Linked DNA regions of Homo sapiens: region 2 is linked to region 1. The links come from fine-mapping of genetic effects on gene expression. Tissue or cell type: whole blood. Region 1 holds a variant in brackets; the other region holds the start of a gene. All regions are shown on one strand. Distances are from middle to middle.

Evidence for each region. PIP is the estimated chance that this variant, and not a neighbour inherited with it, causes the effect.
Region 2: it holds the start of PATL2, and the variant in region 1 is fine-mapped to the expression of PATL2 in whole blood (TOPMed, PIP 0.94).

Annotation. Positions count from the first base shown.
Region 1 is chr15:44,674,137-44,678,485 of GRCh38, forward strand. It overlaps PATL2 (PAT1 homolog 2), which reads right to left. Exons shown (of 18, transcript NM_001387263.1): 4 at 2,339-2,429; 5 at 1,350-1,555; 6 at 14-94. The coding sequence starts at 2,354. Among named protein-coding and RNA genes, the nearest start is that of SPG11, 13 kb to the left of the region's middle. RefSeq lists an enhancer at 1,534-1,583. The variant A/C (reference allele first, on the strand shown) is at 2,438.
Region 2 is chr15:44,709,476-44,713,475 of GRCh38, forward strand. PATL2 (PAT1 homolog 2) reads right to left here and starts at 1,848. Exons shown (of 18, transcript NM_001387263.1): 1 at 1,545-1,848; 2 at 1,396-1,454; 3 at 621-739. It overlaps B2M (beta-2-microglobulin), which reads left to right and starts at 2,042. Exons shown (of 4, transcript NM_004048.4): 1 at 2,042-2,138. The coding sequence starts at 2,072. RefSeq lists an enhancer at 1,863-2,525.

The sequences.
Region 1 (4,349 bases):
GCAGCAGACTCACCTGCCACAGAAAATGCAAGGAGGCAAGTGACATTCCCAGCATACCAGGGGCCTTGACTCCAGGGGAGCTAAGCAGAGCTCTCTGGAACAGGAGGGAGGAAAAACCAGGCTCAAATGGGCCCCTGTAGTGTCTTCTGCATTCACCTGTGTTTTTGAGGTGGTGGGAGGAAGCAGCAAGACCAGGTGTTCCAACATCCAGGGCAGTGGCAGCTTGGCCCTCCCTCAGATTCAAAGTCAGCTGGGCCAGGATCCCTCTCCCTCTCCTGGGAGGAATAAGACTAGTGCAGTGGTCCTCCCTTATTCATGAGACATATATGTTCCGAGACCCCCAAGGGATGCCTAGAACTGGATAGTACTAAACCCTGTGTATAGTGCTTTTTTCTTATATATACATGCCTATGATAGTTTATATATATATTTAAAAAAAATTTTTTTTAGAGTCAGGGTCTTGCTCTGTCACCCAGGCTGGAGTGCAGTGGCACCATCATAGCTCACTGCAGGCTCAAACTCCTGAGCTCAAGCCATCCTCCTGCCTCAGACTTCTAAGTAGCTGAGACTACAGGCATGTGCTACCATATCTGGCTAATTTTTGAAAATTTTTTTTCTTTTTTTTTGTAGCGACAGGGTCTTGCTTTGTTGCCCAGGCTGGTGTGGAAGTCCTGGCCTCTAGCAACCCTCCCAAAGTGCTGGGATTACAGACATAAGCCACTGCCCCTGGCCAGTTTAATTTAAGAATTAGACACAATAAGAAATGAACAATAAAAATAGAACAGTTATAACAATATACTGTAATAAAAGTTATGTGAATGTGGTCTCTCTTAAAATACCTTATTGTACTATACTTGCCTATTTTCAGACTATAGTTGACCAAGGGTAACTGAAATGGCAGAAAGTGAAACCATGGACTACTGTACCTTAGTAGTAGGTTGAAGGAAGTTCTGAAATCACCTCATATCTACATAGGAGTCCTTGTCCTTCTCCACTAGTTATGGGATCCAGGGGAATAAATACCAGGAATGGACTACTGAGACAGAGGGGCCCAGGATCAGGCAAACGTGACTCACCTTTAACGCTAGTAGCAGGGCCACCGCCTGTGGGCGATGCACAGCTCTGCTAGGACCTGGTTTTAAGGCGAGAACAGCATCAGAAATGAAGTGGGAGACAGGAGAAAGAGGGAAGGAGAGAGTCCCTAACTCAAGTTCAAGGCTTAAAAAGAAAGTGTTAATCCAGAACTTGTCTTAGAAAAGGGTAGAAAAGAGAAGAGGAATGTTTAGTGACAGCCTGTGAGCCACAGACAGTTCAGGACAACCCTCTCCCATTCCCTTCTGCCATGGTACCTGGGTGTTGTGGACAGCACCAAGTACAGCTGGATCCCCAAGATCATTCTCTTCCTCCTCTAGGTCTGGGTCCAGATCTGGGTCCAGATCCTCCTCGTCCTCCTCCTCTTCCTCCTCCTCCCCTTCATTCTCTTCTTCTTTTTCCAACTGGCAGGCAGACACCAGCTCCTCCTCAGAAGCCAAGGGGCCACAGGTCTTACCTGGCCCTTGGTTTAAGTGTGGGCCAGAGGAGAAGGTAAGATGGGGCTCAGCTGTGAGTCTTGTCTAGAGAGGCTGCTACTCAATAGCACTTCTGTTCATAAGCCATCTCCAGCACCACCTTTGAACATAACGCCTCCTGTTCTGTGGGTTTAACTCGGCCTCCCTTCTCCCAAGGTGCCCCGAACCATCCCCCAGTAAGTCAAATGGAACCTGAGCCAGGTGTGGTGGCTCGTGCCTGTAGTCCCAGTTACTTGGGAGGCCAAGGCGGGAAGATCATTTGGGCCCAGGAGTTTGAGATCAGCCTGGGCAACACAGTGAGACCCTGTCTCTAAGTAAAAAATTTAAAAAGCAAACAAAAGGAACCCGGCAGATACCAAACACCTTCACTTTCACATCCCCTCTTCAATTCCTTCATTAAGTTCTAGCACAGCCTTTTCCATCTGCTCTGCCCCACCCAACGCCCTTTCTATTGCCTCTTTGAACAAGTTCCACCTGCCCTGACTCACTGCAATTTAACCCTACTGTGTGCCATATACTTTACGTGCATATGTTCATTTAACAGTAATATGAGGCTGTCCTGGGTTGTTGTTGATAATTTTACTAGGTTGGTGAGAAAAATAAAGCCCAGAAGAGTGACCTTTCAGTCACCCATTATGATATAATTAGCAAGTGGAAGAATTTGGAATAACTTCCAGTGACTCTGGACATCCAATCCCATATGTGAAACAGACCAGCAACCTCTGCATGCTGGGGCATTTTATATAACATCACGGCCCACTTGTTGATACCTTCAAGGCAATTCATCTTGGCAGGCTGGTGGACTTCCTTCTTAGCCGTGTCCTCCAGTGAAACAGCATTGCCAGCCTCTGGAAGGTAAACCTGAGACA[A/C]GAAAGAGGCCAAGAGGCACCATCCTCAGTCAGTAAGGATGACATGGCACCCTAAAACAGCCATGGAATCCTCCCAGCAAGATGGTTAGAGAATTCTTGGCCATGGTCTTGAGGAGAGAGACCCTGGGGTCTCAGACTGCCATAAACACCCACCCTCCCAGCTCGGCTCTAGGGAGCTGTCCCACAAAGGGACAGAAATGAGGCACAGGCTAGAAGCAGGAAGAGAAGTACTTCCCAACCGACATCACCAGTCACCGTCCGAGTGTGGTGATGCCTTGCTGCCGACACCCACCACCTGACTGTTGCTGTCCTTTCTGTTTAAGTTATTCATAGCAGCCTGGGCCAGGACCTGTTTGCCGCTCCTGGCTTTAAAAGTCCCAGCTCCTCCCCTGCTCACCCATTAAAGGGCTAGCATCCTCCATCCATTGGGGCCTGATGGAAATATGAGAACATAGTTTAATGATTAAAAAAACGCTTGAATGGAGAAAAGACATAAACTGCATTTTTAGCCATCCATGGCTTTTAGTACAGTTTATTGGGATTGATATTTGGGGGCAGATAGTTAAAAAGAGGATCCCTGTTTTCCACACCCTTCATTGGTAGTTTGTGAGGTTGCATTTAATTTAATCCCTAGGTTTTGCTTCAACAAAATTGGATAGGAAAGTCCTGGGTAGATCCTGGGGAGGATGCCTAGCAACCACATTCCTGGCGCTTCAGGGCAGCGTACTTGAAGCCCTCAAGTCCACCTGATGATGCTTGCCCTTCACCGGGTCATGTGAGCTTAAGTCAGCTACTCAGCTCTGACTGATGAGAGACCCCTGTGAATTTGGAAGTCAGATCTTCATGGTAAAAACACTTTTGCATGAGATACACAGTCTTACATCTTCTTGGCTGCTCTAATGGCAAACTGGTCCAGAAGCTCAGGAGTAAAAACAAATCAACAACAACAAAAACAAAAACATAGCTGCTCCTGGTAGGCAAAACCCAACACCCTCCCAAGTCTCATCTAACCCTCAAGCAACCCTGGGTTCTGTGCCCACATCCTGTGTTCAGCTGAAACCCACATGACTTTGTAGAACTTCTGAATAAGAATAAAAACTAAGTTAATTTCCCTACATCAAAAATGAAAGTTAGGACCCTCTTGTCATGGTGATAAGACCATGATTCTTGGTGCCTTTAAAGGAAAATATTTGTTTCAGAAGTTTTACTGCAGGTCATAACTATATGGGTGGGGGAACAAATATAAGTAGCTTGAAAGTTACTGAAAAACTTCTCATATATCTTGAGATAGCATCTTACTCTGTCACCCAGGCTTGAGTGCAGTGGCATGATCTTGGCCCACTGCAGCCTCCACCTCCCGGGTTCAAGATTCTCCTGCCTCAGCCTCCCGAGTAGCTGGGATTACAGGCGGCCACCACCATGCCCAGCTAATTTTTGTATATATATATATTTTTTTTCAGTAGAAACAGGGTTTCGCCATGTTGGCCAGGCTTGTCTCAAACTCCTGACCTCAAGTAATCCACCTGCCTTGGCCTCCCAAAGGGCTGGGATTACAAGCACAAGCCACCACACCCAGCTGGGTTCTGGCCTTTTTGGTAATGTTATTCAGCTGTTTCTCTCAGGAACTTCCTAATAACGTACTTTAGCACTATTAACAAAAGGACCACATGGTGAATTTCAGTGTTCCAGAGGTGATTCATTAGGTTGTTGTAGAGACTAGATCTTAAGGAGAAACTTGTTGCATGAAGATTTTCATTCTGAAGGGACTTCTGGTACTGACTAGTACCAAAGCAGGTGGACTAGGGCTCAGTCTTAAAGATCACAGCCCTGCCCTGGCTGTTTGGAGTTTCACTTGGGACCTACTGTTTTTTATGAAGGTCCCCTACCCTTATCTGAAGTCTCATATGTCTAC
Region 2 (4,000 bases), 35 kb after region 1:
GTTCGAGACCAGCCTGGGCAACACAGCAAGACTCTGTCTCCACAAAAATATTAAAAATTAAAAAAAAAAGAAATTGTCATGTTTGTAGACTTCCCAAATTTGCCATCCTAGGCAAACAGTGCTCTTGTTTTTAAACAAATAGTTGTATACATAATTTTCCCCCTCACTATTCAAAACATGTCATAAATGGTAAGTCCAAGAAAAATACAGGTATTCCCCCCCAAAGAAAACTGTAAAATCGACTTTTTTCTATCTGTACTGTTTTTTATTGGTTTTTAAATTGGTTTTCCAAGTGAGTAAATCAGAATCTATCTGTAATGGATTTTAAATTTAGTGTTTCTCTGTGATGTAGTAAACAAGAAACTAGAGGCAAAAATAGCCCTGTCCCTTGCTAAACTTCTAAGGCACTTTTCTAGTACAACTCAACACTAACATTTCAGGCCTTTAGTGCCTTATATGAGTTTTTAAAAGGGGGAAAAGGGAGGGAGCAAGAGTGTCTTAACTCATACATTTAGGCATAACAATTATTCTCATATTTTAGTTATTGAGAGGGCTGGTAGAAAAACTAGGTAAATAATATTAATAATTATAGCGCTTATTAAACACTACAGAACACTTACTATGTACCAGGCATTGTGGGAGGCTCTCTCTTGTGCATTATCTCATTTCATTAGGTCCATGGAGAGTATTGCATTTTCTTAGTTTAGGCATGGCCTCCACAATAAAGATTATCAAAAGCCTAAAAATATGTAAAAGAAACCTAGAAGTTATTTGTTGTGCTCCTTGGGGAAGCTAGGCAAATCCTTTCAACTGAAAACCATGGTGACTTCCAAGATCTCTGCCCCTCCCCATCGCCATGGTCCACTTCCTCTTCTCACTGTTCCTCTTAGAAAAGATCTGTGGACTCCACCACCACGAAATGGCGGCACCTTATTTATGGTCACTTTAGAGGGTAGGTTTTCTTAATGGGTCTGCCTGTCATGTTTAACGTCCTTGGCTGGGTCCAAGGCAGATGCAGTCCAAACTCTCACTAAAATTGCCGAGCCCTTTGTCTTCCAGTGTCTAAAATATTAATGTCAATGGAATCAGGCCAGAGTTTGAATTCTAGTCTCTTAGCCTTTGTTTCCCCTGTCCATAAAATGAATGGGGGTAATTCTTTCCTCCTACAGTTTATTTATATATTCACTAATTCATTCATTCATCCATCCATTCGTTCATTCGGTTTACTGAGTACCTACTATGTGCCAGCCCCTGTTCTAGGGTGGAAACTAAGAGAATGATGTACCTAGAGGGCGCTGGAAGCTCTAAAGCCCTAGCAGTTACTGCTTTTACTATTAGTGGTCGTTTTTTTCTCCCCCCCGCCCCCCGACAAATCAACAGAACAAAGAAAATTACCTAAACAGCAAGGACATAGGGAGGAACTTCTTGGCACAGAACTTTCCAAACACTTTTTCCTGAAGGGATACAAGAAGCAAGAAAGGTACTCTTTCACTAGGACCTTCTCTGAGCTGTCCTCAGGATGCTTTTGGGACTATTTTTCTTACCCAGAGAATGGAGAAACCCTGCAGGGAATTCCCAAGCTGTAGTTATAAACAGAAGTTCTCCTTCTGCTAGGTAGCATTCAAAGATCTTAATCTTCTGGGTTTCCGTTTTCTCGAATGAAAAATGCAGGTCCGAGCAGTTAACTGGCTGGGGCACCATTAGCAAGTCACTTAGCATCTCTGGGGCCAGTCTGCAAAGCGAGGGGGCAGCCTTAATGTGCCTCCAGCCTGAAGTCCTAGAATGAGCGCCCGGTGTCCCAAGCTGGGGCGCGCACCCCAGATCGGAGGGCGCCGATGTACAGACAGCAAACTCACCCAGTCTAGTGCATGCCTTCTTAAACATCACGAGACTCTAAGAAAAGGAAACTGAAAACGGGAAAGTCCCTCTCTCTAACCTGGCACTGCGTCGCTGGCTTGGAGACAGGTGACGGTCCCTGCGGGCCTTGTCCTGATTGGCTGGGCACGCGTTTAATATAAGTGGAGGCGTCGCGCTGGCGGGCATTCCTGAAGCTGACAGCATTCGGGCCGAGATGTCTCGCTCCGTGGCCTTAGCTGTGCTCGCGCTACTCTCTCTTTCTGGCCTGGAGGCTATCCAGCGTGAGTCTCTCCTACCCTCCCGCTCTGGTCCTTCCTCTCCCGCTCTGCACCCTCTGTGGCCCTCGCTGTGCTCTCTCGCTCCGTGACTTCCCTTCTCCAAGTTCTCCTTGGTGGCCCGCCGTGGGGCTAGTCCAGGGCTGGATCTCGGGGAAGCGGCGGGGTGGCCTGGGAGTGGGGAAGGGGGTGCGCACCCGGGACGCGCGCTACTTGCCCCTTTCGGCGGGGAGCAGGGGAGACCTTTGGCCTACGGCGACGGGAGGGTCGGGACAAAGTTTAGGGCGTCGATAAGCGTCAGAGCGCCGAGGTTGGGGGAGGGTTTCTCTTCCGCTCTTTCGCGGGGCCTCTGGCTCCCCCAGCGCAGCTGGAGTGGGGGACGGGTAGGCTCGTCCCAAAGGCGCGGCGCTGAGGTTTGTGAACGCGTGGAGGGGCGCTTGGGGTCTGGGGGAGGCGTCGCCCGGGTAAGCCTGTCTGCTGCGGCTCTGCTTCCCTTAGACTGGAGAGCTGTGGACTTCGTCTAGGCGCCCGCTAAGTTCGCATGTCCTAGCACCTCTGGGTCTATGTGGGGCCACACCGTGGGGAGGAAACAGCACGCGACGTTTGTAGAATGCTTGGCTGTGATACAAAGCGGTTTCGAATAATTAACTTATTTGTTCCCATCACATGTCACTTTTAAAAAATTATAAGAACTACCCGTTATTGACATCTTTCTGTGTGCCAAGGACTTTATGTGCTTTGCGTCATTTAATTTTGAAAACAGTTATCTTCCGCCATAGATAACTACTATGGTTATCTTCTGCCTCTCACAGATGAAGAAACTAAGGCACCGAGATTTTAAGAAACTTAATTACACAGGGGATAAATGGCAGCAATCGAGATTGAAGTCAAGCCTAACCAGGGCTTTTGCGGGAGCGCATGCCTTTTGGCTGTAATTCGTGCATTTTTTTTTAAGAAAAACGCCTGCCTTCTGCGTGAGATTCTCCAGAGCAAACTGGGCGGCATGGGCCCTGTGGTCTTTTCGTACAGAGGGCTTCCTCTTTGGCTCTTTGCCTGGTTGTTTCCAAGATGTACTGTGCCTCTTACTTTCGGTTTTGAAAACATGAGGGGGTTGGGCGTGGTAGCTTACGCCTGTAATCCCAGCACTTAGGGAGGCCGAGGCGGGAGGATGGCTTGAGGTCCGTAGTTGAGACCAGCCTGGCCAACATGGTGAAGCCTGGTCTCTACAAAAAATAATAACAAAAATTAGCCGGGTGTGGTGGCTCGTGCCTGTGGTCCCAGCTGCTCCGGTGGCTGAGGCGGGAGGATCTCTTGAGCTTAGGCTTTTGAGCTATCATGGCGCCAGTGCACTCCAGCGTGGGCAACAGAGCGAGACCCTGTCTCTCAAAAAAGAAAAAAAAAAAAAAAGAAAGAGAAAAGAAAAGAAAGAAAGAAGTGAAGGTTTGTCAGTCAGGGGAGCTGTAAAACCATTAATAAAGATAATCCAAGATGGTTACCAAGACTGTTGAGGACGCCAGAGATCTTGAGCACTTTCTAAGTACCTGGCAATACACTAAGCGCGCTCACCTTTTCCTCTGGCAAAACATGATCGAAAGCAGAATGTTTTGATCATGAGAAAATTGCATTTAATTTGAATACAATTTATTTACAACATAAAGGATAATGTATATATCACCACCATTACTGGTATTTGCTGGTTATGTTAGATGTCATTTTAAAAAATAACAATCTGATATTTAAAAAAAAATCTTATTTTGAAAATTTCCAAAGTAATACATGCCATGCATAGACCATTTCTGGAAGATACCACAAGAAACATGTAATGATGATTGCCTCTGAAGGTCTATTTTCCTCCTCTGACCTGTGTG